Regions from separate parts of the Homo sapiens genome. Here regions 1, 2, 3, 5, 6 and 7 are each linked to region 4. The links come from fine-mapping of genetic effects on gene expression. A gene starts in region 4. Each other region holds a variant in brackets. All regions are shown on one strand. Distances are from middle to middle.

What was found. PIP is the estimated chance that this variant, and not a neighbour inherited with it, causes the effect.
Region 1: its variant is fine-mapped to the expression of NTSR1 in blood mononuclear cells (TOPMed, PIP above 0.99). The same link has a PIP of 0.9 or more in monocytes and whole blood.
Region 2: its variant is fine-mapped to the expression of NTSR1 in whole blood (TOPMed, PIP above 0.99).
Region 3: its variant is fine-mapped to the expression of NTSR1 in whole blood (INTERVAL, PIP above 0.99).
Region 5: its variant is fine-mapped to the expression of NTSR1 in whole blood (GTEx, PIP 0.99).
Region 6: its variant is fine-mapped to the expression of NTSR1 in stomach (GTEx, PIP 0.97).
Region 7: its variant is fine-mapped to the expression of NTSR1 in whole blood (INTERVAL, PIP above 0.99). The same link has a PIP of 0.9 or more in blood mononuclear cells.

The regions. Positions count from the first base shown.
Region 1 is chr20:62,727,082-62,731,143 of GRCh38, forward strand. The region is part of intron 1 of NTSR1 (neurotensin receptor 1); the gene reads left to right. It overlaps NTSR1-AS1 (NTSR1 antisense RNA 1), which reads right to left. Exons shown (of 2, transcript NR_199009.1): 2 at 2,849-4,062. Among named protein-coding and RNA genes, the nearest start is that of NTSR1-AS1, 6.2 kb to the right of the region's middle. The variant C/T (reference allele first, on the strand shown) is at 2,040.
Region 2 is chr20:62,737,904-62,741,965 of GRCh38, forward strand. All of the region lies in intron 1 of NTSR1 (neurotensin receptor 1), which reads left to right. Among named protein-coding and RNA genes, the nearest start is that of NTSR1-AS1, 4.6 kb to the left of the region's middle. RefSeq lists enhancers at 1,857-3,056, 2,037-2,665. The variant C/T (reference allele first, on the strand shown) is at 2,297.
Region 3 is chr20:62,685,996-62,690,057 of GRCh38, forward strand. It overlaps a transcript of SLCO4A1 not described here. Among named protein-coding and RNA genes, the nearest start is that of NTSR1, 21 kb to the right of the region's middle. The variant C/T (reference allele first, on the strand shown) is at 1,658.
Region 4 is chr20:62,707,035-62,711,096 of GRCh38, forward strand. NTSR1 (neurotensin receptor 1) reads left to right here and starts at 1,802. Exons shown (of 4, transcript NM_002531.3): 1 at 1,802-2,887. The coding sequence starts at 2,174. RefSeq lists enhancers at 766-1,279, 1,280-1,792, 2,002-2,548, 2,549-3,093.
Region 5 is chr20:62,732,222-62,736,283 of GRCh38, forward strand. The region is part of intron 1 of NTSR1 (neurotensin receptor 1); the gene reads left to right. NTSR1-AS1 (NTSR1 antisense RNA 1) reads right to left here and starts at 3,138. Exons shown (of 2, transcript NR_199009.1): 1 at 3,005-3,138; 2 at 1-961. RefSeq lists an enhancer at 2,562-3,407. The variant A/G (reference allele first, on the strand shown) is at 2,485.
Region 6 is chr20:62,774,535-62,778,596 of GRCh38, forward strand. It overlaps LINC00659 (long intergenic non-protein coding RNA 659), which reads right to left and starts at 2,322. Exons shown (of 3, transcript NR_046225.1): 1 at 2,272-2,322; 2 at 781-852; 3 at 1-35. RefSeq lists a silencer at 1,629-1,790. The variant G/A (reference allele first, on the strand shown) is at 2,333.
Region 7 is chr20:62,675,291-62,679,352 of GRCh38, forward strand. It overlaps a transcript of SLCO4A1 not described here. Among named protein-coding and RNA genes, the nearest start is that of SLCO4A1-AS1, 11 kb to the left of the region's middle. The variant C/A (reference allele first, on the strand shown) is at 1,922.

The sequences.
Region 1 (4,062 bases), 20 kb after region 4:
TCAAGGCCCTCCTGGAGTCCCCGAGAGACCGCCTCATCCGCCTGGGAAGCGGGTTGCCTGCATAAGCCAGGGCAGGACACACCAGCCCCACACAGGAGCCCGTGAGGGCTCCGCACTGCCCCCACCCTGAGCCGGGCTCCTGCAGGCTCCCCGGCCCCACAGACCTGTCACCACGTAGATGCGCTCTCTCCGGCTCACAGGGCCTGAGGACAGGGTTTCCTCTCCACCCTCAGGGAGCAGCAAGGGCTGGGTGGAAGTGGGGGGTCCCAGCAAGTCCCAGCCCAGAGTGCCAGGAACAGGTGAGCTGGAGTGAGGAGTGAACACTGAAAACACACAGGCTGTCACCGCCTGGGGCCACGGGTTCTGCCCCAGAGATAGCGCCAGCTGGACTGCCGGCGGGTCTGGAGCCACCTCTGCACCTTGCCCGGCCGCCGGGCTCAGCACCGGTCTAAGGAGAGTCCGCTGTGGTACGGCCGCTGGGCAGTGGCTCTGAGCCCTCCGCCTCCAGCATCGAGGTGACTGAGGGGATAGCACAGAGAGGGTGGCTGGACGTGGATTTCCTGGAGGGGAGGCGGGAGTGCCTGAGCCACAAACAGGTTTCATCACAAAACCTGTGTCTGGCGTGGTGGCAGGGGGACCTGTGGGCTGAAAGCAGCAGCCCCTGGATCAGCAAATGGCCCCGGCCTCAGAACTGCACAGCAGCGGCCACCAGGGCCACAGCCGAGGGCCAGAGTGGGAGAAGAGCAAGGGCAGGCGGGTATGGGTGCCATGGCAAGGGTGGGGCCAAGTGGGCAAAGGGACAGACCTGTGTTCCCGGCGCTCCCGGCGTGGGCCGACCCAGCACCTGGGGCCTGCACTCACTCACCTCCTGTCACAGCAGATGGTGCTGGGGACCCAGCGAGGCCTCAGGGCTGCCCCAGGCCCACGGTGCCTGCAGGGCCAAGGAAGGGCCAGTCTAGGCCCGGCCCCATCATCTGGCTCTTTACTCCCCCTCCTGGGGCTCCTTATGACCACAAGGACGAGCCTTGTGGATGAGGGGTGTGGACTGGACAGCAGGGAGGGCTTCCTGGAGGAGGGGCTGAGTCGGCTTTGAAGTCAGGGGAAGGGAGTGGTGCACAGGTCCCCCCGAGTCTCCCAGCATCCGAGCCTTGATCAACAGGAGGGAGATGGGTACCTTGGGGTCGGTGCTCTCTCTTTCCCTCCCCGGCTACTCAGCTGGACCCCAGGGTCACCTCCTCCATGAAGCCCTGTTTCCCCATCCCTGCGGTCAGTGTGTGCGGCAGCCCCACCCTGAGGAGGGGGTGGAGCTGGGTGGGTGCAGACACTACTGGTGATGAACAGACAGACGTCCCCGCAGGAGGGGACGGAGCTTCCGTTTCCAGCACCAGCTTCATTCCCGGGGATTTTTACTGTTCAGTTTCTAAAAATGGCAGAAGTTCATTTCTTAACATCCCCTTGGCAAGGCTGCTTCCATTTCGGTGAAAGTGGAGGCCGTTTGTGGTTTTCTCTGCCTGCCGGAGGCTGGGCCACGGTGTCTGCGGAAGACGCTGTGTGCACAGCTGGGCTTTCTTTGTGTGTGCCAGCATTGCTCAGGAAGGGGAAGGAAAAGGAAACTGAGTCGCGAAGGGCAGGCCAACACCCGGAGGCCAAGCAGGTTTCACGGCAGCCACTTCTGCCAAACGCCAGAGGCACGTCCACCAGGTCACCTGGACAGCCCAGCCAGGTGCCCACCCAGTTTCTGTCACCTGCACCCAGAACCGGCCCTCAGTGGAGTCCTCGCTCCAGACAGAGGGGCTTCAGGACACTGAGAAGGGTCTTGGGGTAGATTCTTTTCTGAAGGAAGCCGGAGATGCTGAGTTGGAAAGGGACCCTAAGACTGTCCCCTGACCCCACCCAGCCCTTCCGGCGACACTCAGAAGAAGCTGCTGGCAAGAGCCAAGAGATGGATGTCCAGTCCTCGGTCTGTGCACACCTGAGGGGCTCGTGCCCTGCAGGGAGCTAAACCTGAGACTGAAGCTGTATCCAGACACACTTACTCA[C/T]GGCATGTCCCAAATGCCTGACACCCACAGATCCACCCAAGTCTGCTTCTCTGCTGTGCCTGCAGCCCCCAGGAGTGGCTATCTGCATGGTCAAAGCCACTCCTCCCAACTTGGGGGCTCCGGGAGGAGGGCAGGGTGGGGAGAGAGTAGCTCCCTGGGAGCCCCAGGGTGGCCTGCTCAACACAGGCTCTGTGGCTTCCAGCCCACTGGGGAGAGATGAGACAAAGGGAGAATGGAAAGATCTGGAATTTCTTTCGTGCATGGAGCGGGGGCAGTCCTCAGAAGCACAGCCTGAGACAGGGATTGTGGTGCAGGTGATGGATGGAGGGTGGGCCCTCAGGGGAGGAGAGGGAAACACAGGTGACACAGGTGTAGCTCAGAGCCTTATAGCCTCAGGAATCTCCCCCAGGGGTGCTTCCAGAATGCAGACCCCAAGGCTCACCCCAGACCAACTGGATCAGAATCTCCAGGGCAGAGACCTAGAACTTGGGGCTAGGGGTTTCTAATTTTTTTTTTTTTTTTTTTTTTGAGATGGAGTCTCGCTCTGTCACCCAGGCTGGAGTGCAGTGGCACGATCTCAGCTCTCCACCTCCCAGATTCAAGTGATTCTCCTGCCTCAGCCTTCTGAGTAGCTGGGATTACAGGAGCCCGCCACCTCCCTCAGCTAATGTTTTATATTTTTGGTAGAGACAGGGTTTCACCATGTTGTCCAGGCTGGTCTCAAACTCCTGACCTCAAGTGATCTGCCTGCCTCGGCCTCCCAAAGTGCTGGGATGACAGGCCTGAGCCACCATGCCTGGCCATCTAAATTGTTATTAATAGACTTTATTTTTTAGAACAGTTGTAGAGAAGCGTTGAGCCCACAGGACAGCGGCTCCATGGTGTCTCCTGGCCCTCACCTGTTAATAACAGGTGTCTCCCTGTTATTAACATTTTGCATTAGTGTGGTACATTGTTACAATTAATGAGCCAATATTGATACATTATTAAGGAAAGTCTGCAGTTTATATTAGGGTTCATCAGTCTTGTACCTTCTGTGGGTTTGGACAAATGTGTAATGTCCTATATCTACCATCCCAGGATCCTGCAGAAGAGTTTCATTGCCCGAAAAAATCCTTGGAGCTCCACCTGTTTATTCCTCCCTCCCCACAACCCCTGGCACCCACTGATCCTCTTACTGTCTTTCCAGTTTGTCTTACCCAGAACGTCACACAGCTGGGATTATACCGTATGCAGCCTTTTCAGACCAGCTTCTTTCCCTTCGCAGTATGTAGTTGAGGTTTCTCCCTGTCTTTTCATGGCTTGATAGCTTGTTCTTTTTACGGCTGAATAATATTCCATTATCTGGATGTCCCCCAGCTTGTTTATTCACTCAGCTATTGATGGACATCTTGGTTTTTGGCATTTATGAAGAAGGCTGCTATAAACATACATGTGCAGGTTTCTGTGTGGCTTTCACCCCTTTGGGAGTAGAAATGCCAAGGAGGGCGATCGTTGGAACACGTGGTAAGGATACGTTGAGCTTTGTAGGAAGTTGCCAAAGTGCCTTCCAGCACGGCTGCGCCATTTTGAATTCCCAGCAGCCACGGGTGAGGGCGGTTCTGTTGCTCCGCAGCCTTGCCAGCGTTTGGTGTCGTCAGGATCTTGGTTTTGGTTTTTGTAGCCATTCTCATTTGATCTCATTGTTTTAATCGACATTTCTCTAATGACATATGATGTGGAGCATTTTTCTTGTGCTTATTTTTCCATTGCTACGTCTTCTTTGATGAGGTGTCTATTCAGATGTTTTGCCCATTTCTTCATGTTTGTTTCCTTATTGTTGAGTTGTAAAAGTTCTTTATATATTTTGGATAACACTCCTTTATCAAGTATTTTGCAAATATTTTTTCCTAGGCTGTATCTTGTCTTCTCATTCGTTTAACAGTGTCATTTTTAGAGCGTTTTTGTTTTGTTTTGTTTTTGTTTTTTCTTTTTTGTTTTTGAGACGGAGTTTCGCTCTTGTTGCCCAGGCTGGAGTGTAATG
Region 2 (4,062 bases), 31 kb after region 4:
CTTCCTCCTGGCCCACAGATGCCCTTCAGCCCTGCAGCCTCTGCGTAAAGCTCCCTCCTCTGGAAAATGGCCCCTTATCTCCCCCAGACCACGCTGCATGCCCCCTGGTCCTCCGCAACAGCCGCATCCCTTTCCCTGCAGTGCCCATCTGCCCACGTCTGCCCCCCTCCCCCTCCTCTGCCTATGCCAGGTGCCTTGGATGCATCAGGTGCACCGTCAGGGCTTTTGAAGGCTCCACGAGGCGGGCCTGGGCACGCAGTGCACGCAGAGGGTGATGGAGGGTGCTAGATGGCCGGCCTGGATGAACCCAGGTGCACGCAGAGGGTGACGGAGGGTGCTAGATGGCCGGCCTGGATGAACCCAGGGACAGGGACAGACAAGGCAGGTGCAGCCACTGAGTTCTGGAACATTCCAAGAAGAGTCAGGCAAACTACTCCCTGCTCAGGTCTGCAGCCCGGCTTGGGGAGAAGCCTGCAGCTGTGGGGTCAGCCTCCCAGCTGCCAGCAGTAATAGCCCGAGCCATGGGGAGGCCTCGTTTCCTAAAAAGGCCTCAGCTGCCGCTGCGTTCCTGCAGGGTGGAAGGACAGGCTGATGACCACCAGCGAAGTATCATGAAAATCTCCCGGCGAGCCTATGAGCCGTACATTTGTCTCTCTCTAGAGACAGGCTTCTCCTGGAGCCAATCAGCCCTCTGGCTTTCATGGGCTCCTACCTTGCAAGGTGGCCACAGGCCTCAGCCGTGCCTGTGTTGGCAGGGAGCCCTGTGCACTGCCTCTCTTCTGCCCGCGGGGTTAGCATGGCAGGAACCCGGGCTGGAGGCTGGGAACACGTCCAGGCTCACGCTGGTCCTCGAGGTGGCTCCAGCCTTGCTGCTCTTGGCAGCAGAGATGGCGGAGGGTCTAGGTCTCAGGCCAGAGATCTCCAAAATGGACCAGCCCATCCCCTTCCATCATGAGGAGGAGACAGGGCCAGCACGAGAAGGGAAATATGCTCAGGGTCACTCAGCGAGGCCAAAATCCTGGGCTGCCTTGTTCTTGACTCTAGGATCTAGAAATGGGAAAGCTGGGACTTGTCGCCTCCCCAGTGATCTATCTTTTACACACGCGTGTTTTCATGCACTGAGCCATTCATAAAACAGAAAAGCCAAGCCTCCTCACTGTTGTAAAGGAAAGCCCTGCGTGGCTGTGAGGGAGACGCGTGTGGAACCTCATGTCGTGTGGCGCCGTTGGGGACCCGTTGGGCTCTTGAGACTGAACCGGGACAGGCTGAGAGGCTCTCCAGGACACTTCCGGGCAGCAGGCCCCCTCTGGCTGTGCTTGACCCTGGCCCCTGGGCCCTCTTGGTTCACCAAGTCTCCCACGTCCTATGCTCTTGAGATCCCAGACTCGGCACTGGATGGGGTGGCCCTGGGTCCCACTGCTGTTCCAGAGCACTGGCCCTTCCTTTCGGCCACTCAGGGTAGAGGCTGGAGCCCCTGGAATCACACAGAAGGGGCCTGGCTGAAGCACAAAGGGTGGAGATCTGGGGTTAAGCCAGAGCCTGGGGCCCCCTGAGCCCAGGGGCTGGGCAGCTGGGGAAGCAAGGAGAGCCAGGTGTCACTGAGTCAGTCCCTCCCATGCAGGTACTTGGGGGTGTGAGGGGCCGCCCCCGGCCTTCCTCTCTCACCCCTACGGCCTCTTCCGGTGGGTGAGGACACTTGGCTCTGTGTGTTCACCATAATCAGATTCACCACAACAGGGCAGAACACTAATTCCACTGACACCGCTGAGATGCTGTGTAGAGCCAGATGTCTGTGGGACACGGCGGCCAGCTTTGCCAGGGCGTGGCCACTAGGCGCTGGGAGGGGCAGGATGTGCCTGATGCCCATATGTCTGCATGGCAGAAAAGCACACAGAGAACCGTGGGGCTGGAGGTGCAGCGGCCGGCGACGGCCAGAACTGGAGAACAGGCCGGCGGGGTGCGGGACGCATATGCTGTCCCGCAGGCAACTGGGAACACTTGCTCTTTTCCAAATCTGTGCTCTGACATGGAAAGTTAAGTCGTGCTGGGACTGCTGGCCCCTGGCCGCACCGCCTCGTCCCCAGCTGCAGGGCCTCCCCCTTGATCACAGCAGCTCCTCCTTGGTCACAGCTGGGGCTTTGCACAAACTCCCCGGAAACCCAGGGCTTGCGTTTGCAGGTCTCTGGGCTTTTCCTGCATGGAGCAGAGAACTTTTCCGGATGGTGTGGCTTTTTTCAAGGAACCGGGCTCCAAAGCGCTCTGTGCTAAGTGTGTTAGCTCCACTTCTGATCTGTCA[C/T]GTTAGTGCCCTGCGTTTTAGAAAAGTATGAACGAAAGCCTCAGCAAACCGGATCGAACGGGCTCATTCGCAGCCATAGGGTGAGCGGCAGGCAGATCTTACAAGCCGTGCAGGCCGGAAGGAAAAGGGTTGTGGGGCTCATTCTTAGTCATAGGGTGAGCGGCAGGCAGATCTTATAAGCCGCACAGGCCGGAAGGAAAAGGGTTGTGGGGCTCATTCTTAGTCATAGGGTGAGCGGCAGGCAGATCTTACAAGCCGTGCAGGCCGGAGGGAAAAGGGTTGTGGGGCTCATTCTTAGTCATAGGGTGAGCGGGAGACAGATCTTACAAGCCGTGCAGGCGGGAGGGAAAAGGGTTGTGCCGACAGTCTGAGGGTGGAGACCAGAGCTGTGGACTCGAGCCCAGGGGAGCCCCCACCTGGCCACGGTTTCCTCATCTGAGAAACAGGAGTGCGAGGCCCTACCAGGGATCCTTCCCGCTCAGATCCCCAGAGAGGTGGGGGCCGTGACCGGGGCCAGAATTCCACCCCTCACTCACTGCTCTGCGCAGCCTCCTGGGCTTGTCAAGAGTTTTTAAAGCCCTGTCGTGCTTCCCAGCAGATGCCTTGTGGGTGTGAGCATTCTCATGGGCTTGAAGCTGGCAGATATTTGAAAACATGGCAGAGACCTGCAGCCCGCAGCCTCAACCGCTGGCTGTCACCTGCCGCTGCCTGTGATTTACTCTTGAGAAGTGCTGGAGCAGCTGAAAAGCAACTCGCCACCCCAGCACTGCCCTCAGAGTGACTAATGGGGCACACTGGGGTTCTGGGCCCCGGCCAGGCTCAGCGAGGGGAGGGCCGTTCCCGGGGCTGAGGGCCAGGGGCCTCCCCTCCTCCTGTCCTGGAGGGCACCTGCCCAGCACAGGTAGAGGAGGCAAGGGTGTCAGGAAGGCTCTTTCCCTAATCTGACTAAGGCCCTCTGGGCTAAGTCAGGGGTCTCCCGGCAGCCAGGCTGCTAAGTCAGGGGTCTCCCGGCAGCCAGGCTGCTGCCAGTCCCGCAGCTCAGCCGGGCACAGACAGGATGTGGCTTCCAGGGGCTTCTGTTCTGCCAAGTCCCCACTCAGACAATGGCCTCTATAGCTCCAGCAATCAGGAGGGAAAAGATTCCAACTCCCACACTCAGGGCTCCCTGCTGCCTGGAAGAGGAGAGGAGGGCAAACCTCTTGCAGAGGTGACGGGTGACTCACCAGCCCCGCTCAGAGGACGGGTCTGCAGGTGGCCAGAGTTCTCCTGATGGGGTCCTTGCCCCCAGCTGGCTTGGGGGTCCCTACACCGGCCCCCTGCCCCACACCATGTTCCTCCCACCCCATGTCTGTGCGCCCCTTCGAGCATGCCTGGGCATTGTCCATGGTACTGAACCCCTGAGGCTCCCTGGGGCTCTGGCATTCTCTTGAGCCTTTCCCAGAAATTCCAAACCAGAAGAAAAGTGCAGGGAACAGAGTGGAGGAGCCATGGACAGAGGCTGTGGGGCAGGCTCAGTCCCTGAGAGGTCGCCAAGGAGCCACAGCCTTGGACTAGATGCTCTCAAAACCTGGCAATGGCCCACAGAAGGCATCTGCTCAGGTGAGGTACATGCCACAAAGCTTCACCAGTGGGGATGAGGATCTGCTCATAGGATGGCCCCTGATGGAGGAAGTGGGAGCTCAGGCTGTGGGATCAGGCCCCTGGGTTCACAACTGTGCCTGGGTTTCTTTATCTACAAAAGGAGCCTGACAGGAGCCTCTGCCTCA
Region 3 (4,062 bases), 21 kb before region 4:
CCGCTGAATTAGCAAGACAGTGTGGGGAAGGTACCCTCCGGGGACTGGGGGGCTTCTGGACTCCGAGAGCCCCTGCGTCCATTCCTGTTTATCGCGGCCACTTCCCATCTGGGCAGGGCAATCTCTGTACCTGGGGAGTGCAGCCGCCCATGGAGACGGCTCAGAATAATGAGCTGAGTGTCTCCGTGTAGCTCCCGCCCCAGTGCGGAGCTCCTGGTACAGGATGGCAGGTGGTGTCTAAATAGCTATTCATAAGGACATTATCTCCAAGCACCGGGTGGAAACGAGCCTTCCTCCCCCCAGCTGAGAAGTGACAGGCACTTCCCTGTTTACTGAGGACAACAGTCAACCGCAGAGCGGCGTGGAGCTCGCAGTTCTTCTCATGTCACAGTTGTGACTGAGTGTCATGTCCTAAAGCTTCAGGATGAATGCAACTCCGCTCCACCAAGGGCCGGGGACAGAGTGAGAAGACACTGGCGCCAGGAGCGGGGAAGAGGGGAGGGGCCGGCAGCTGCCTAAAGAGCAGGCCCTCCTGCTGTTTCTGAGCCCCCGAGGGCCCTCTGACCCCAGACACCTTCCCTGCCAGCTGAACACCATTCCAGAGTCAGATCTTGGTTTTGTTTTCTTTCTTTTAAAAATATTTTATTATAAGGTGAAAAGAAAAGGAGAGTACACTAAGTCTTAGCCATGGTTGGCCCTTTAGTCTGAATTAGTATATCAGCTATTTTACCAAGGGCAGGTTTGGACGGTGCAGAGACAGGAAGAGAGTATCAGAGTGCCCAGCACCACAGAGAAGGGGTGGCTGGCCAGGGCGCCCATTGCAGGCAGATGAAAAGGGTGCCCCCGAACAGGCACGATGGGTAGGGCACCCCCAAACAGGAGCAATGGGAAGGGCACCCCCAAACAGGAGCAATGGGAAAGGCACCCCCAAACAGGAGCAATGGGAAAGGGCACCCCCAAACAGGCACAATGGGAACGGCACCCCCAAACAGGCACGATGGGAAGGGCACCCCCAAACAGGCACAATGGGAAGGGCACCCCCAAACAGGAGCAATGGGAAAGGGCACCCCCAAACAGGCACGATGGGAAGGGCACCCCCAAACAGGAGCAATGGGAAAGGGCACCCCCAAACAGGCACGATGGGTGGGGCACCCCCAAACAGGAGCGATGGAAAGGGCGCCCCCAAACAGGAGCGATGGAAAGGGCACCCCCAAACAGGAGCGGGGGCCTCTGAAGGCAAGTGGCAGCAGCTTCCTAATCCTGGCCCCACGTTGTTCCAAAGGTCCATGAAGTTGACCAAACGCCACACAGCCACGGGAGACACAGTGGCCACCCTGGGGCGTCTACACTGAAGGCCAAGGGCATGTGGAGGAAGAGCCATCTGAGCCGAGGCCCGGGGAGGAGCCAGCAGGCCAAGGAGGCGGAAGAAACCACGCAGTGGCGTCCAGGGCAGGGCAGGTGCGTCATCCGGGCGGGATGCAGAGACACGTCCTTCCACCAACCATCTGAGGAGCACTTGGCACCCACACAATGAGCCCGGCAAGGGCCACGCCAGGAGGCAGCGCACGGGGCAGAGCCTCTGAGCCAGAGAGGGGGAGGTCCCTTGGGAGGCCCCTGCCATCCCCCGCTCTGGGTGGGCCTCTCCAGCCAGACTCTG[C/T]GCCCCAAGGGCAGGGCTGGGCCTAAGCCACACCTCGGGGTGCACGGGCTGTGGGGGGCCGCTCCTGGACACGGAAGGACGACACCGGCTTCCCTGTACCTCTGCTGGGGCCGCGGGTCCCATGTCGTCAGCGTGGCCACTAGGCTGCCAGCCTAGCACAGCCTCCAGGGCAGCCATGGCCCAACCTGCCTTCCGAGCCTCAGGGGTATCCCTGAGCACATGGGAGTGCAGGAAAAGGTACCCCAGGGGATCCCCACTCACCTCCCGGCCATGTCCTACCAGGCACTAGTGCCGCGCTGCAGCCACCCCCGGGCCTTACCCACCCCCACCAGCTTCATTGCCTTCCAGGTCCCAGCACCACCAGTTTCATTGCTTTCCAGGTCCCAGCACCACCAGCTTCATTGCTTTCCAGGTCCCAGCACCACCAACTTCATTGCCTTCCAGGCTCTCAGCAGCATAAGAGACCTACACACACACACACGTGCACACATACATAGAAGGGGCTGACTCACACGCCACCCCATATGCAAGCCGCAGAAGCTGGGCGTCCACTGAGCAGCAGAGATAGCCCATCCCAGAGGGCAAGGAGGATCCCTGGGGTCCCTACGAGAACACCTCGCCCAGGTCCTGCCCGCGGCCCCCCACGAGGCCTCTTTGGGAGGGAGGCTGCCCCCTACACCACTCAGTGCTAGGACTTACCCATGCACCCCCCAGCCCTGTGCAACCCTGCCCGTGCACCAATGACCCCACTCACCCCTGACCCTGCTCACCCCAACCCCGCTCACCTGTAGCCCCACCAGGTTCTTAAGCAAAAGCTCAGTCTGTGTGCACACAGCAAACACAATTCTGCCTATATTTTCTCGGGGTTTGGGGCTCACATTGGACACTGGAGGCTCTCTTGAGTGAGTAAGAGCAGCAGCTCAGGCTTTTGAAGGCAAAATGGAATGGACGCAGGGCCCAGGAGACACCAACTGGGTGAGAGCAGGGCTCCAGAGCCAGCAGATGGCTGGGGTGGGGGATGCATGCCCCCTGCCACCCACTCCAGCAAACCCGGTCCCCTGACTTGGGTTGTGTCCAGCAATGGCTTTCTGGGCTTGAAGGCAGAGCTGCCAGGAGGAAGGAGTCCCTCTGCAATGTCAGAAGCACCAAACACAGGGGAGACCTAACTTTCAGGGCCTGGGGGAAGCTGGGGTGGCCAGGCTGGTGGGAAGGAGACATTAACATTTTCCGAGAAGCCCTTTAATTCTTCCCAATAAACCGAACGAGTACAAGCCTCAGCATGGAAGCACAGCTTTCTAGAAGCTGGAAAATCAGGCTCATCACAAAAGCTCGAGCACAGTTAATTTCCTCTGACATTTCCTCCTGTGGTTAGTCTTGGAGCCAGCAGGTGGCCGGAGGCGCCCCATTCTTTCCCATAAATGGACGGTCTCTAAGGAATCAAGTCAGGCCCTCATCTCCAAACCCTCATCCCATTTTTCCCTGGCCTGCACGTGGCCAGCTGTGCCCCGCGCCTCGTAGGCCTGTCCCTGGCTGTGCCCCGCGCCTCATAGGCTTGTCCCTGGCTGTGCCCCGTGCCTCGCAGGCCTGTCCCTGGCCGGCTGTGTCCCGTTCCTCGCAGGCCTGTCCCCGGCTGTGCCCCGTGCCTCGCAGGCCTGTCCCCGGCTGTGCCCCGTGCCTCGCAGGCCTGTCTCTTGGGCAGAGTGGCTCCCTCTCTCCATCAGTCCTTCCTCCATCACACCGGTGCTCGTGCAGAAGCCAGGGCTCGCAGACATCACCCTAGGCACTGAGGATACCAGCTGCCCGAACGGACAGACGGACAGATGCTCAGCCTCCTCAGGTGCTGGCCCATGGCCTCCCAGGCTGGATGAGCAGCAGGTCCCTACGGGGGACGTGGCAGAGGGGACCCCAGCCCCAGCAGGGCCCAGCGAGCCGGGTGCCCAGCACAGCACTCACCTGAGCAGCTGTCTCCACCCCGCATTGAGCCCCTCCTGGGGACCGCCCCTTTCCAAAGACGCCCTGGTCATCTTAGACCCCCAGACCCTCCGGAAGGCGACCGCCATGCCTTAATAACTTGCGGGGGCTCAGGCAGAGCTGTAGGGATCCTGCCAAGCTGCCCGATTCCTTGTGTTCCTGGCAGGGGGATCCACATCATCCTCACCCCACTCCATGTGTGGGACGGGGCACCCAGGAATGTCTGGGGCCGAGGAAGGGGGTGGACCTGAGGGAACCCCTACCTGCAGAAATAATCATGAAAGGGGTGGAGCAGATGCGGGGGACCCGCGTCCCCACCCTCACCCCCAGGGGCTGAGTCGACGCCTGCAGCCAGCGCCTGCACTCCTGTTCACATGGGCTTCCCTGGCCTCTGTGCCTGCTTTGCGCCTGCGCGGCAGGTGAACGACCCCAGC
Region 4 (4,062 bases):
CCCTTCATTCAGCCGCTATTCCCATTTTACAGACGACTCAATCGAGGCACAGAGACGCTAAGCACACTCGCCCAAATGTGAAGTAGCAGGGCCAACATTCAATCCTATCTACTGGCTTCCAGCAAAGGGATCACTGGCGTTTCCTTTGATGCCAAGATTTCTAAGCTCTGATGTTTGTGAGCTGCAGCCCCCTGACAAGAGTATCAGGCTCCGGTTGAACAGAGAAGTCCAAAGCAGGGCGAGAACGGACGAATAATCACAGAGTCCCGCTGCCAGCCACCGGCTCAGAAGCCTTGAATTCTCCTAGCTGGGCGGGCCCGGGAGGGGGTTCCTCAGCCTCCCGCTTCCCTCAACACCCTGCGACCCCCGCCCCAGCCTGCCCAGGTTTCCTGCTCCCAGCACAGCAGGTGCAGCCAGCCATGTGCACAAAGGCCAGGCTGGTTCCCTGGGCTGCACTCGAGCAGCTCCTCCCAGCCCTGCACACATGGGGCAGCAGCTCTACCCAACCTCTCCCAGGGGTTCTGGGGAGGAGGGAGCAGGGGAGGGGGCGGGGAGGGCCCAGAGAAGGGACAGTAGTGCCCTGGGGGCCCCTGGGCAACCCAGACATGGAGGGGGGGGCAAGCTTGTGCCTGGCCACCTATGCCAGTGCCACCAGGTGCTGGGGGGGACACGGAAAGGACAGGAATCTTGCCCTCACCTGGCTCCCGAGCCAGGGGCCGGGGCACCCTGTGAGGACACTCAGAGGGAGGGAGTGTGCAAAGCCTGCAGGGCCTGGGAGGATGCGTGCTGGGGCTGCCTCTCCCAAATCCTGCTGGGGCGCAGGCTCTCAGGGTGGCTTCTGATGACAAATCCAGGCAGTAATAAGGGGCCCAGGGCATCACATCCCATAGCGTCATGAGACCAGCCCAGGGTGCCAGATGCAGGGCCCTGAGTGGGGAGGGTGCTGCTCTGGGCACCTGCTTTCTGCCCTCCCTCATTCACCCCTCCCCAGACTTTGATGAAACCATCTGTGGCTCCCGGCCTCTGCAGGACCCAGCCCCTCAGCTCCTCAGCCCCTGCAGGTGTCCCTCGGTACTGCCTCACGCCATCCTGCCCCAGGTGATAACTATGCCCTGAGCCCCCACCATTTCCACTGGGCACATCCCAGAAATACGCATTCACAGACCAGGCACGCCCATGACTGCGGCCAGATTTTAAAAGGAATCACCAGAAATGTAATCTCCAGTGGTCCTAGAGCCCCCTGGGCACCCAGCTTCTGGCACCCTGTGGACACCCAGGAGTGGGGGTCGGCCCAACCAGCTGCGCAGCCGCCCAGCCCTGCCAGCGGGGAGCTTCCTCCCTCCCTGCCCTCCGGATACACCCTCACCCCAACTGAGCGAGCCCAGGGTTGGGGGAGGTGCATAGTTCCCTTCCTAGCCGGTGCGAGAAATTGCGGAGAACAGGGAAGAGGGTGGCAGGAAGGGTCTGGTGCACGATACCCGCCGCGCCCGCTCGGAATCCTGGTTCCCTGGAGCGCTCACCCCAGCCCGCCCTGCCCCGGGGAGCGCGAGGGGGCGACCCGCCAGGCTGCACCCGGGCGGGGCGGGGATGGCGGCGGGGGCTGCCTCCCTCCTCCGCCGCCACCCCCCACTGCTGGGCGCGCCGCGCGGCCGCCGGCTCCGTGGAGACGCGCAGAGCCGGGAGGGCGCGGGCGCGGCGGGAGGTGTGCGGGGCTGGGGTGCGCGGAGAGCGCGAGGGAGGAGATTCTGAGCGAGGGAGGGGAGCGCGCCCGGGCAGCAGTGCGTGCGCTCCTCCCGGCGCCACAAGCTCGCCCCGCGCAGCCCGAGCCGGGCTGGGCGCTGTCCTCGGGGGCCTGGGGAACCGCGCGGTTTGGAGATCGGAGGCACCTGGAACCCGTGGCAAGCGCCGAGCCGGGAGACAGCCCGAGGAACCACGGGTTCTGGAGCTAGGAGCCGGAAGCTGGGAGTCCGGAGGAGAGCGGAGCCCGGAGCCCGGAGCCCGGGGCGGCGCGTCTGGGTCTGGCGCTTCCCGACTGGACGGCGCGCCCGCTGGTCTTCGCCACGCGCCCTCCCCTGGGCTCCCGTTCATCGGTCCCCGCCTGAGACGCGCCCACTCCTGCCCGGACTTCCAGCCCCGGAGGCGCCGGACAGAGCCGCGGACTCCAGCGCCCACCATGCGCCTCAACAGCTCCGCGCCGGGAACCCCGGGCACGCCGGCCGCCGACCCCTTCCAGCGGGCGCAGGCCGGACTGGAGGAGGCGCTGCTGGCCCCGGGCTTCGGCAACGCTTCGGGCAACGCGTCGGAGCGCGTCCTGGCGGCACCCAGCAGCGAGCTGGACGTGAACACCGACATCTACTCCAAGGTGCTGGTGACCGCCGTGTACCTGGCGCTCTTCGTGGTGGGCACGGTGGGCAACACGGTGACGGCGTTCACGCTGGCGCGGAAGAAGTCGCTGCAGAGCCTGCAGAGCACGGTGCATTACCACCTGGGCAGCCTGGCGCTGTCCGACCTGCTCACCCTGCTGCTGGCCATGCCCGTGGAGCTGTACAACTTCATCTGGGTGCACCACCCCTGGGCCTTCGGCGACGCCGGCTGCCGCGGCTACTACTTCCTGCGCGACGCCTGCACCTACGCCACGGCCCTCAACGTGGCCAGCCTGAGTGTGGAGCGCTACCTGGCCATCTGCCACCCCTTCAAGGCCAAGACCCTCATGTCCCGAAGCCGCACCAAGAAGTTCATCAGCGCCATCTGGCTCGCCTCGGCCCTGCTGGCGGTGCCTATGCTGTTCACCATGGGCGAGCAGAACCGCAGCGCCGACGGCCAGCACGCCGGCGGCCTGGTGTGCACCCCCACCATCCACACTGCCACCGTCAAGGTCGTCATACAGGTGAGCCTCAGTAACCAGCCCCGGGGCTCCCCTCTCCTTCACCCCAAAAGCAGTGCCAGTGGTGTGCCTTCTGGGTAGGGAGTGGGAGAGATGTCACAGAGACAGTCTACTCCTGCGAGGCTGGGAAGGCGGTTGGGGCAGCTTGGGGGCAGCTCCAGAGTTGCCAGGCTCAGCCCCTATCTTCTTCCCTCCTGTTGAGGGGATGGAGCCCCTGCCTGTGACCTCTCTGGTGTTGGTGGCTGGGCCTCGGACATCTCTGAATTCCTTAAGCCTAATGGAAACATGTGCGCTGGCACCTGCGTCTCCAAAGGAAGAGTAACACTTTCATCAGCTTCTCAAAAGACTGTGCCACCAACAGGTGATGTTCCTTCCTCTGCAGAGAAGCCCCCAGACTGGCTCTGCCGGTGCCTCCCAGCTGCCTGCCCTGACCCAAACTTGGGAGTCAGAACAGAACCTGATGCCGTGTTGGGCCAGTTCCTAGTTTAGCCTCAGCTTTCCCATCTGTGTGATGGGGTAGTGATAGCATTGACCTCAGAAGGTAGAGCATTGGAGAGAGGACGCGTGGGAAGTGTTTGCATGGCCCCTGACACATAGAAGGGCTCACAGGCACTATTATTGCGGGATGGTGGGGACGATGTTTCTGCGGGGAAGGTTGTGAGGATCTGCGTGTGGCGGCGGTGTTGTGGTGAGGTGTGTAAAACTGGAGCCGAGTGACTAAGGGCCCTCCAAGGGTCTGAGCAAAGCGCCGTGGGAATGCGGGTGGGAAGCCCCCTTGGGAATCAGTTTGGCTGAGGTTCGTGGCACGGGGGGTTCCAGTGCTGGAGGGGAGGGCTGATCAAACCAAAGCCCCGAGCAGGAGGCTGGTGTCCAGGGAGGAAGTCAGGGCCGGTCGGGAACTTTGAAAGGCATCTTGGAAATGAGCAGCCTTAGAAGTGTGGGGTTTCCTCCATTTCTGGTGGGCTAAGGAAGCCAGAGGGTGAAGGATCCGGGCAGAGTCGCCTACCTCTGCCCAGCTAGAGGGGCCAGGGTGGCTGGCTGTCCCCCCAACTCCCCACACACCAGCATCGCCAGCCTCCCAGCTAAGCTTCTGTAGTTGCCTGGGCACCCCGCGTATGCCAGTATGCCCGGTGGGGGTGAGGGCAGCAGTGCCGGGCAGGGGGTCACCTGTCTGTCAC
Region 5 (4,062 bases), 25 kb after region 4:
GGAGTGAGGATAGGGGGCCTCCCTGCCTCCTTCCCTATCTTAGGAAGAAAAGCTTCAGGTTTGTCACCATTGAGTATGACATGGGCTGTAGGTTTTTAGTAGATGTTCTCTACCAAGCTGAGGGAGTTCCCTTGTATTCCTGGCTTGTGAAAGGTTTTTCTCACAGATGGGTGTTGGGTTTTGGAAAATAGTTCCTGTTGCCATGATGGATTTCGATAATCTGTTTCCGAACCCTGGAGCAGCCTCGCATGCCTGGAATAAATCCTGTGCTGTCTAATTCTTACCATGTAGCGCTGCATGAGATTCGCTGCTATTTGTGTAATTCTTAGTATGTGGTGCTGGTTGGGAAATCCTGTGGTGTATAATTCTTAGTATGTGATGCTGGATTTGCTGCTGTTTTGTTGAGGGTTTTTGCATCTGTGTTCATGAGACATCCTGGTCTGCGTTTTCCTTTCTTGTAACATCCTCGGTTTTGTTATTGGGGTAATGCCGGCCTCGTAGAGTGAGTTATAAAGTGTTCCTCTGCTTCTATTTCCTGGAAGAGACTGTAGAGAGTATCTATCATCTGTTCCTTAAATGCAAGGTAGAATTCTAAGTCCGTGTCCCTGCGTGGCTCCAGGCACGCTGGTTCCCCATCTGACCCTCCGCTTGCTTTTCCTCGGGCTCTCCCTGCCTGGGCCTGGAGGACCACAGCGGGCACAGGGGGCGGCTCAGGCTGAGAACCAACGGCGCTGACGTCGCCTAAAGGGGGTTCCCAGCTGGCAGCCTCCAGGTGCTGGAATGTTTCTCGGTGAGAAGCCGCCACGGGAGTCTGTGGACTTGTCACATCACCCGCAGGCGTGGCCCTGAGGCCACGTATCCAAGCAGCAGTGCCGTGCATATTCATGTCGGCATTGGACTTGCAAATTCTGAGTGAAGTAAATGTCATCGGCAGTGTGTAGACGTTCTTTCGGAAGAAGATCTGTCAGAGAAAATGCAAGCTGATTACCAGCCTAACAGAGAAATGTGCATCCCGGTCCCCGCAGGGCCACCCTGGAGGCACCTCTGCACCTCCCAGGCACAGCTCTGGGAAGGCTGAAAATTAGCACCAATTAGGGAAGAATGAAGCTCTTGGTTCCCTCCTGAAGCACTTGGTTGAAGCTTGCTGCGCTCCTTTCCGGGAGCAAATGAGCATCTCTCGGGACAGTTGTGTTTCCCTTGGGCAGGGAGCCACTGGCAGCTCCCCAGTGGGAATCGTGCCTTCTAGTCCAGATTTCCACTTTGGAAAGGGAAGGTTCTAGAAAGTTCTGGAAAGCTCGGCTGTGGCTGACTCCTGGCTTAGGGCTCAGGCCTGTCTCACCTAGCAATGCAGGGTGAGCCATGTGGGCTGGCTTCTGGGGATGGGGAGGAGAGATACACACATGGAGAAAAAGAGGGAGATAGAGAAGAGAGAGGGAGAGAGAAAAGGAAAGAGAGGAGAGAGGGAAAGGCAGAGAGAGAAACAGAGGGAGAAACACAAAGAGAGGGAGAGAAGGAGAGAGAGACACAGAGAGAAAGGGAGGAACAGAGGAGAGAGAGGGGAGGAGGGGGAGGGAGACAGCACCCTCTTCTCCCTACCCTTGCCTGGGGTCTCAGCTGAGAGAGGGAAGGCTCTGTGCTGGGGAAGAGGCCTCCAGCAGGGAGTAGTGACTGATGAATGTATGATTGCTACTTTATCTCAATAGAGGATTCGAACAGCCCCCAGGCAGGGTCGCATTTTAAATGATGGTTTTGGGTGCTGAGCCAGCCCAGCTTGGAGGGGGTTTCGTTTCACAGATGAGGAGCCTGAGGCTGGGGGAAGCCACTTGCTCAGATGCACACGGCTGGGGCCGGCGGCAGGTTTGCCCGACCTCGAGTCTGCGCTTCTCATCCTGGAAGCGACCGCCTTGTCCCCTGCGCAGCCTCCTTCTCTGGCTCAGCCACGTGGGTTACTACTGAGTTCACTCTTCAGCCCTGGTGGGGGACGGGCAAGAGATGGGGCGTGAGGGGCGGGCGGAGGCAGCGAGGTCTGGGATGAGAGCTTTTCTGGAGCCTTCTCTGGAGTGTGACCCCCTTCCCCGCAAAAAAAAAAAAAAATCTTGGCTCAGCTCTTGGGCTTCGGTGCAGTAGGGGCTTTGTGGCCGATGCAGAGGAAGCCGAGCTCTGCTCCTGGAAGGACGTGGCCCCTTGTCTTACCCAGGCTTCATTTTGGGGCCATCTTTTTAGGTGGTTGAAAATGAGTAACTCATTCTTGACCTTGTGCAATGCCCACGCCCTGTGTCCGGGGCTGACCTGGAGGCTCTGGGTTCTCTGCTGAGCAGAGCTGGGGCCAAGACCACCCCTGGGGAGCGAGGAGCAGGCGCTGGTGTGCCTGGCCCAGGTGGCTTCCCATAAAAGCTGCAGGCAGCCCTGTCTAATGTGGCAGCCCTGGGCCACACGTGGCCACTGGGCATTGAGACATGGCTGGTCTGAGTGAAGATGAGCTTC[A/G]GCCTGAAATCCGCACCGGGTTTTAGAGTTAATGCGGAAAGGCGGTATACAATAGCTCACTAATACCGTTGCAAGTTGATATGATATTTTGAATACATTAAGTTAAATAAGATATCGTATTAAAATTATCATAGCTGTTTCCTTCCACTTTTGTAACATAGCTACTGGTACATTTAAGCCTCACGTGGCCTGCATCCTATTTCCACGGGACTGTGCTGCCCGAGCCCCTCCCTGCTGATGAGAAGCAGCCCTCGGGTGGCTTTGGGGTGTGTCCAGAGCCTGTACAGCCTCCCCTTGGGGTGGGGTGCCGCGTGCGGGGTGCCAGGCACCAGCCGGTGCTGAGGCCCCATGTGGAGGCAGCCCTGCATGATGGGCAGCAACCAGTGGGGTGCCATCGTGTGCGGTGACGTGCACACTAAAGAAAGACGCTCAGCTCCCTCCTCTGCCCCGCCTGGCCGCCAGCTCAGTGCCAAAACCATGGTTAGGGGGTGGGAGGCCACGGGTGCCCTTGGGGACCTACCAGGCCTGCAGGGTCCTTGGCAGAGGGGCAGTGCCTGGCACCAGGAGGACACTGTGCTGGAAGGTCAGCCTGTTCCCACAGCCAGGGATGTGGGGCTCCCAGGTAGCCCCATTCATAGTTATTTGAATTGCTGTGATGGAGGCAGGCGGAAGAGGTGGGACTGCGAGGGAAGGCAGGGGCCCCCCGGGGAGAGAGTGGGTGCCTCCTTCCCTTTCCTCAAAGCCCAACGGCCTTGCAGTGAGACTGCCACTATACAACAAAGAGCCAGCACCGCTGTGCACGCTGGAGTCTCACAGATGAGCCGATTATGTCTTTGTGACAAACACATTATTAGGAGTGAGATGAATTCCTTCTGTGGGCGGGGATGATTCAGAGAGAGGCGTCCCAGCCCCAGGAACAGCCTCCCCGCAAGGTGGCCTCAGCCTCCCCCATGCTCCCCTGGAGGCCGCTCCCTGGCTTGGGGGGTGGGTAACACGGGAGTCCCCCCGACACGGCGAGGTGAGCTCACCTCCTGAGGCTGGCGTGCAGGGAAGTAGGAAAGGGCACACACTGCGACCGGGGACCAGGGACAGGGTCTTCCCCGCTGTGACCTGTGGGGCTGTGCAGGGGGCGGGAGCAGCCCCCATCCCAAAAGGAAATGGGACAGGAGTTGCCAAGAACAGTTCCCCTTACCCTCCAATTCCTCACGGGTTCAGCACTTTCTCTGAGGGGGTCTGGTCTGAATCCCAAATTCAGATTCTGTATTCAACTGTTCCCTTCATTACAAAGAACAAATTTCCGAGCCCAGTAATTCCCGTTTAAATTTGTCAATTTTCATCCCTCGATAGAAATCAGTATGTGGTGATCACAAAAGCCGGGGTATTAGCCCAGTGGACAGTTTGTTCTGAAACTTGTCCCTTCGGGGCAGGGCCTGGGTTAGGAGGCCTGAGATCTGCCTGGAGCCTGGGGTGCCTCGGGCAGGGGCATCGTGGCTGGGGATTCTCTGCACTTGCCCCATGGAGCAGGGCGGGAAGGGAAGCCAGGCTCCTTTCCCTGTCTGGGTCTGGGGCTGCTGCCCT
Region 6 (4,062 bases), 68 kb after region 4:
ATGGAGGCTGAGTCCCCTTCCTCACTGCTCTCTACCTGGAGAAGAAACCACCAGACCATGAGGCCGAGCTGGGGAAAGTTCCGGGGGGCTGCTTGGGCTCTGTGCTCCCTCCACTGGGGCAGGCGGAGGGCCCTGCGTGCTCCTTCCAGGCAGGGGCTGAGGGGACTGTGGAAGCCACGACAGGGGTCTGTGTGAACAGAAGACCCAAGGACAAGGTGCCCCAGCACTCCCAGCCACTAGCAAGGACAGGCAATTTTCAAAACTTCTCCCCAAACTACAACCTCAGGAAAAGGGGTGGAGAAAACTCCTTTGACAGAGATTTGGTTTTCACCACCATGACAGGACAATGATGATGGATGGAAGCTGTGGCTGGGCGTGGGAAGGCTGAGTGTGCAAATGTGGGTGGAGTTCTGGGGCCCCGCCCCCGCCAGTCTTCCACTTGGTCCCTGTGAGGACCCACATGAGGGAAGTGTTGCTTCTGGCCTCAGAACCCAAGGCAGAGCAGGCTGGAGTCCCACCCCATGGATCACGAGCCCACGCTGTGACCCTGAGTCCTGGACATGCGCAGAGGGAGGGTGTGCACGAGCCCGGGAGCTCCTGTCTCTGTCTTAAGAGTGGAGCATGTCTTAAGAGCTGGCATGAGGATCAGAGGGTCCCTTCAGTGCGGCCTTCTAGAAGAACTACAGCAACCAGGCCCTCGCAGGGGGGAGATGCACCTGCTGGGGCTAAGGAGCGAGTGAAGCCAGCCCCTGAGACACATGCTCCCAACCCCATCCTCACCTCCCAAGAGAGGGGGAGCCTCCTGTTAAGCATCCAAGTCCCAAGTCACCGGCCGGCATCGGCTGCAGCTCTCTGTGTGTGGAGACATCTCATTCTGGTGTCTTCTTTACACAGGTCAGCGCTCACAGGCTCGGCTGTGTCTCAAGACCCAATTCCTTCGAGTCACTGAGATGCCCAAGGACAAGGGCAACAGAGAGTGTGAAAAGCTGGAGTAGACAGGACAGAAAACAGGGTGCAGCGTCCCCCAGGTTGGCAGATAGCCCAGCCCCAGGGACCCCACAGCCATGGCAACCTGTGTGAATGAGCCCCAGGAGCAGGGCAGTACACGATCTGCGCGACTGTGCGGGGCAGCCCTGGGTCTCTGCCTCAGGGGAGAGATTGTGTCCTCGCCTTTTGTGGTTTCTAGAGGTTCCTGCCCTCCTTGGCTGCACGGCATCTCCCAGCCTCTCTCTCCCTTCCGTCGTCCCCTCTCCTCCTCTGACCCTGACCCTCCCAGTCCCTCTTAGAGGGGCTGTGATTAAACTGTGCCCACCCTGACCATCCAGAATAATCTCCCATCTCAAGGTCCTTAACAGCATGTGGAACTGCACTAGCCGCCCCAAGGCCCCCAAAAGGCAACCCTGGATTGGGCCCCCCAAGTTGCCTGGGATTCATGGCCACCACCCGGCTCGACGGCTCCAGACCGAAATGCACCCAGTTATAGAAACAGACAGTTGCCTCTTGAATGTGCACATGTGTGAGGAGAGTGTCACACCCGTCGAATTAAGGTGGACCCGCCATGAGTGGGGGCAATGCTGGCCAATGCCCACCTGCCCAGCACCCACAGCTCTCGGCCTGGGGCTCCCTCTGTCTCTGGAGCCCGCACTAAAGTGTGCGTCTCCATCCACGACTGGCAGGGCTTGGGGCATAGACATCCCGCTGCCTTGCCTGGAGGCGCCCCAGGCCTCCACTCCCACACTGTCTCAGGGCTCCCCGGGGCTCGGCTCTCCTTGCTCACAGTGGTCCGGGCTGGGGTTCCTTCTTGGTTGCATTTCCAGCTGTGTTCTTTCCTTCACTTTCTCACTCTCCCTTGCCTCAGGGTCTGCATCTGGGGGTCCACTGGGGAGGACTCAGCCTCTCCCGCGTCCTCCATCCCACACACCTGTCCCTGGGCAGCCACGGGGAACAGGAGCACAGGGGACAGCAGGCAGAGGGCAGCGCCCGGGCGAAGGGGACTTTCGCCCTTGCTTCATGCAGCCCTGGCACCCGCAGCAGGGTAAGACGAGATCCCAGAGGAGGAGTCTTGGCCGCAGAACTGCAGGGCCAAGGCACCAGCCGCTCGGGGGCCTGGAGAGCTCAGGTCACAAACTTGAAGTCAGCTGCCCAGGAAGCAGCCTCAGCTGGGGGTCACAGGCCAACTGGGCAGTGCCCTTGGCCACACCTGTGGAAGGAGGACAGAGGAGGGCAGGGCGGAGGAGGGAGGTGCTGGGCTGCAATGTCACCTCTACAGACCTCGGCTGATCCCAAGGGGGTCCACAGTGGATATGGTCCTTCAGGGGTGCCCTTGAAGGCA[G/A]GAAGGGGACAGGACTTTATACTGTTCCTCCCACCCCTTCGAGCAGTCACCAACTGCAGCCCAGATGAGGTCAACAGGTACAGAAAGGAGGGGGTGGGACAGGAAGGAGGGGCGGGACAGGAAGGAGGGGGCGGGACAGGAAGGAGGGGCAGGACAGGAAGGAGAGGGTGGGACAGGAAGGAGGGGCGGGACAGGAAGGAGGGGGCGGGACAGGAGGAGGAGATGGGAACAGGGAGGTGGAACGGGAAGGAGGAAATGGGACAGGAAGGAAGAGATGGGAGCAGGAAGGAGATAGGACTGGAAGGAGGAGATGGGACTGGAAGGAGGAAATGGGACAGGAAGGAGGAGATGAGGCAGGAAGGAGGAGATGAGGCAGGAAGGAGATGAGGCAGGAAGGAGGAGATGAGGCAGGAAGGAGGAGATGAGGCAGAAAGGAGGAGATGGGACGGAAAGGAGGGGATAGGACAGAAACGAGGGATCAGGGTCCTATTCTAATCTCCTGGGGGCATGATTGCAGGGGGTGACATGATTACTTCCAGCCAGCCCTACATGAGCCACCTCGTCCATGGAGTCAGCCCCGCCAGGGCAGCAGAGCCCTGGGTTCGCACAGGGAGCCAGGGTGGCGTGGGGCCTGCATTGCAGACTCCATTTGTCCACATCAATCACTTCTCTACGGCCCAAATCACCCTTAGTTGCCCAGTTCCTGCTCCGCGGCAGTCTGGCTCCTGCTGGCGCCCCAGCCATCTGTCTGCATTAGAGAATGATGCTTGCCAGGGCCTCAGGGAGGTGGCACGGATGGGCAACACTGTGCTCCCGGACCAGGTGACAGACACCACCTCATGCCCCATGGCATGGACCTCCACCTGTCTGATGGCTTTGCCCCAGCCTATCTGATGGCATGGTCCCTGGCCAGTCTATCTAATGGCGTGGTCCCCAGCATGTCTGATGGCGTGGTCCCCAGCCTGCCTGATGGCGTGGTCCCCAGCCTGTCTGATGGCATGGTCCCCGGCCTGTCTGATGGCGTGGTCCCCAGTCTGTCTGATGGCGTGGTCCCCGGCCTGTCTGATGGCGTGGTCCCCGGCCTGTCTGATGGCATGGTCCCCGGTCTGTCTGATGGTGTGGTCCCCAGCCTGTCTGATGGTGTGGTCCCCGGCCTGTCTGATGGCTTGGTCCCTGGTCTATTTGATGGTGTGGTCCCCAGCCTGTCTGAAGGTGTGGTCCCCAGCCTGTCTGATGGCGTGGTCCCCGGCCTGTCTGATGGCTTGGTCCCTGGTCTATTTGATGGTGTGGTCCCCAGCCTATCTGAAGGTGTGGTCCCCGACCTATCTATCTGATGGTTTGGTCCCCAGCCTGTCTGATGGCGTCGTCCCCGGCTTGTCTGATGGCATGGTCCCCGGCTTGTCTGATGGCATGGTCCCCAGCCTGTCTGATGGCATGGTCCTCAGCCTATCTGATGGTGTGGTTGGTGTGGTCCCCAGCCTATCTATCTGATGGTGTGGTTCCCTGGCCTATTCGATGGTGTGGTCCCCAGCCTGTCTGATGGGGTGGTCCTCTGTTGGCTGGTGTGATCCTGCCTCTTGTCTCACATCGTGAACCCTGGCCTGCAGGAGGTGACCCAAGGCTGATGACTCCTTCTCCGGGGCCCTTGCACCACACAGCCTGGCCCTGATTACAGCCCCTGGGCTCCTGTACCTGTCCTCGCAGCCCCCACTCTGCCACTTTGCATTTGT
Region 7 (4,062 bases), 32 kb before region 4:
ATGAGGCCACCAAGCCCAGATTCCCTTCCCAGGTCCAGGAGGGCCCCTCCAGTGGGCAGCCCGGGCTGCCGGCCACCCACGCGGGCTCTGCCACCCCTCAGGCAGCTCCCAAGAGCTGCGGGGTCTCTGCAGCTCTTGAGCTCTGCTGCCCTCGCCTCGATCTAAGCTCCCCTTGCCTTCCCCATTGACAATCCGCCTGGCTCTGACTCAGGCCCAGGGAGGAGACAGGAGCAGATGGCTGACAGGGACAGTTGGGACACAGGGGCAGAGAGGAAGCAGTCTGGTTGCAGCCTGGTCCCGGCCCCAGCCCCCCAGGCCTGATGACCCAGCCTCTGTGTGACTCAGTGCAGGGAGCGTGTGGCTCCTGGCCCTGCCACAGAGGCCAGAAGGCATCTGCAGATGCCCACACAGGCCCCCCGCTTCTCCGGGATCACGGGCGCACCCAGCCTGGTGGGCACATGGGCCCTGGATACGCCCTCGGCTGCATGCTGGCCTGGGTCCTGGATGCCTCCCACAGCCAGCCCCTGTCCTCCCACGTCCTGGGAGGAGCCCCTGGGATTAGCCAGGAAGGTGCCGGCCACAGGGCCCGGCTGCCTGTGGGGAGGAGAAAGACATGCATCCTGGGAGAGGGAGAGGCAGGCAGGAGTCCTCCAAGCCCACTTGGTTTTCCCTCGAGAGATTTTCCACGGCTGCTGGGATGAGGGCTGCGGGGGCCTCCTGTGTGCTGTGCACTAAATGTTCTTCAAGAGTCAGACGCCAGGAGCAGCTGGAAACGTCAAATTTTCTGGTTGTTGGACCAGTTCCTCTTATTCTTCTGTGCATTTAAAAATTATCACTGAATTCGGCCGGCTCGCCAGCGCACGCCTATAATCCCAGCACTTTGGGAGGCTGAGGCAAGCAGATCGCTTGAGCCCAGGAGCTTGAGACCAAACTGGGCAACGTAGCGAAACCCTGTCTCTGTAAAAAAAAAATACAAAACATTAGCCGGGCATGGTGGCGTGCGCCTGTAGTCCCAGCTACTTGGGAGGCTGAGGTGGGAGGATCGCCTAAGCCTGGGAGGTCAAGGCTGTCGTGAGCCATGAATGTGCCACTGCACTCTGGCCTGGGTGGCAGAGTGAGACTCTTTCTCAAAATAATAATAAGAAGAATTCCTACAACCCAACAATGAAAGGATGATCCAATTTAAAAATGGGCAAAGGATTTGACTTTTATTTCATCACAAAAGACATAGAAAAGGCCAACGAGCCCAGGAGAAGATGCTCAAGATTTTCCCACTCAGGGAAGTGCAAACCAAAGCCACAGCGCTGACCGTATCAAAAACAAAAGCAACAAACAAACAAAACCAGAAAACGACACGTCGTGGAGAACTTGGAATCCTCACACACTATGGGTGGGAATGTAAAACGGTAAAATGGCACAGCCGCTTTGGAAAACAGTTTTGCGGTTCATCAAAAAGTTAACCATGGAATTAGCAGATGACCCAGCAATTCCACACCTAGTATCTACCCAAGAGAAATGAAGACATATGTCCACATAAAGACATGCATACAAATGTTCACGGCAATGTTGCTCATAACAGTCAAAAAGTGCACCAGCCCGAATGTCAACTGGCTGATGAGTAGGTAAATCAGCGTGGGCTGTCCACACAGTGGGTCTTGCTTGGCCGTCAATCAGAAAGAATGAAGCCCTGCGCTATGGTGTGCAGGTGCGCATGGACCTTGAAACATGCTCAGTGAAAGAAGCCAGACACAAAAGGCCACGTGTTTTGTGATTCTTTTGTAAGAAATGTCCAGAATGGACAAATCTGTAGAGACAGAAAATGGACTAGTGGTGCCAGGGGCTGGGGGAAGGTGAGGCGGGAGCGACTGTCATGGGTGCAGGGCGTTTTGGTGCAGTGATGAAATGTTCTGGAGTTAGATAA[C/A]GGTGATGGTTGCACAACTCTGTGAACATGCTTAAAAAACCGAATTGTACACTTTAAAGGGTGAATATTTGGGGATGTGACTTATATCTCAGTAAAGCTATTATTAAATACATCCATCCATGCATTCATCGCTGACTGCCTGCCCTGTGCTTTCACTCCTGTAGACCATGGAGATCTGTTGGGGGATCTGTGTCTGTTCCATAACTTTCTGGTGTCTGTTCCATAACTGCAACTCTGCCAGGAGAGCATGTGTGGGCCCCATGTTCAGATGTACCACAATCTCCCTCCCTGCTCACTTCCTTAGGGTGGCAGGAGGCAGAAAGGGGGCTTGAGACCTACACTCCAACCCCACTGAGCAGAGGATGGCAGGAGGCAGGAAGGGGGCGTAGAGACCTGCACTCCAACCCCACTGAGGCAGATATTTTCCAACAACGGCCACAATATGTCCCATTTCCTCTGCTGGAGGTGGGGTCTGTGCACCCTCTTTTTGAGCCTGGCAGGCGATTGGGAGTGCCTCGTGGCAGAGGTGACACAGCTTCTACTGGCAGTGCCTTCTGGGAACGCTCAACTTGGGAACCCAGCGCCACGCTGTGAGCAAGCCCAGGTCATGGGAGCCCCCGCTCTGGCACCAGCTGTCAGCCAGGCCGAGTCCGCCGTGATGGGGGTGCCGTCTTGGGTGCTCCAGTCCCCAGCTGGGCTCTCTGTCCCCACTTCCCCTTAGGGGAGGGAATCAGCCCTTCCCACCTAGCCACACCTGCAGATTTGGGAAGGAAAGAAGTAAGGATGCTGTTTTCAGCCTGAGGGCCTCTGCTGTCAGTAAAGGCTTGAAAGAAAGTGAGGCAAAGGTTGATGGAAGCTGGAGGAAGGGAAAACCTCAGAAGACAGGAACAGTAGGTTATGCAGCGCTGTGGCCTGCAGGGACACAGAGGCAGAAAACGTGCAGATGCCCTGGGCGAGCGGCGACTCCAGGCAGAAACGCCAGCAGGCTTTATTGCAGCTGTGCATAAGAAGGAGAAGAGAGGGTTTTGTTTAACTTCAGTTTTCAAGCAAAATTTAGATAAAATTAAAGAAGTCAGGACTTAACAGAATTTAAAAGAAAGCTGTTGACAATGCCAAGTGCTGATGAGGACTCTGGTGGCTGGAACACTCACCCGTCGCCGGTAGACGTGGAGAGCAATACGGCCGCTCGGGAACCCAGCTCGACAGTTTACTATAAAGTTAGACCTGAACCTTCTTATAACACAGAAATTCCACTCCTAGAGAAAGGCAAAATTATGTTCACACAAAATCTTGTACACAAATGTTTCTTACAGCGCTATTCTTTTTTTTTTTTTTTTTGAGACCGGGTGTTGCTCTGTCACCCAGGCTAGAGTGCAGTGGTGCAATCTCAGCTCACTGCAGCCTCTTACTCCCGGGTTCAAGCGAATTTTCACAATCATCAACAAAATTGGAAACCACCCAAATGTCCTCTAGGAAGTGAAAGGATAAATAGTCGTACAGCCACACGATAGACTCAGCCGTGAGAGGGGGGCACTGTTAATATGCAACAGGGACGAACCTGGGAGGCACCACGCTGAGCAAAAGAACCAGACCCCAGAGGTTAGTAGTGTGTGGTTTCACTTACACAACAGCTTCCAAAAGGCAAAGCTGCAGGGATGGAGAGGAGACAAGCCGTTGCCAGGGGCTGGGGTGGAGAGGAAACTGTGGCTTTTAAAAGTAGCATGGGGCTGGGCAAGGTGGCTCGCGCCTATAATGCCAGCACTTTGGGAGGCCGAGGCAGGCAGATCACTTGAGGTCAGGAGTTCGAGACCAGCCTGGCCAACATGATGAAACCCCATCTCTACTGAAAATACAAAAATTAGCATGCCTGTAATCCCAGCTACTGCAGAGGCTGAGGCAGGAGAATCGCTTGAAGCTGGGAGGCAAAGGCTGCAGCAAGCCGAAATCACACCACTGCACTCCAGCCTGGGCGACAGAGCAAGACTCTGTCTCAGACAAACAAACAACAAAAAAGTAGCATGGCAGAGCTGCTCTGGGTCACGAAGCTATCTGTGTCCTGATGGTGGACGTGGTTCTGGGTCATGAAGCTATCTGTGTCCTGACGGTGGACGTGGTTCCACAAATCCATACATGTGTCAAAA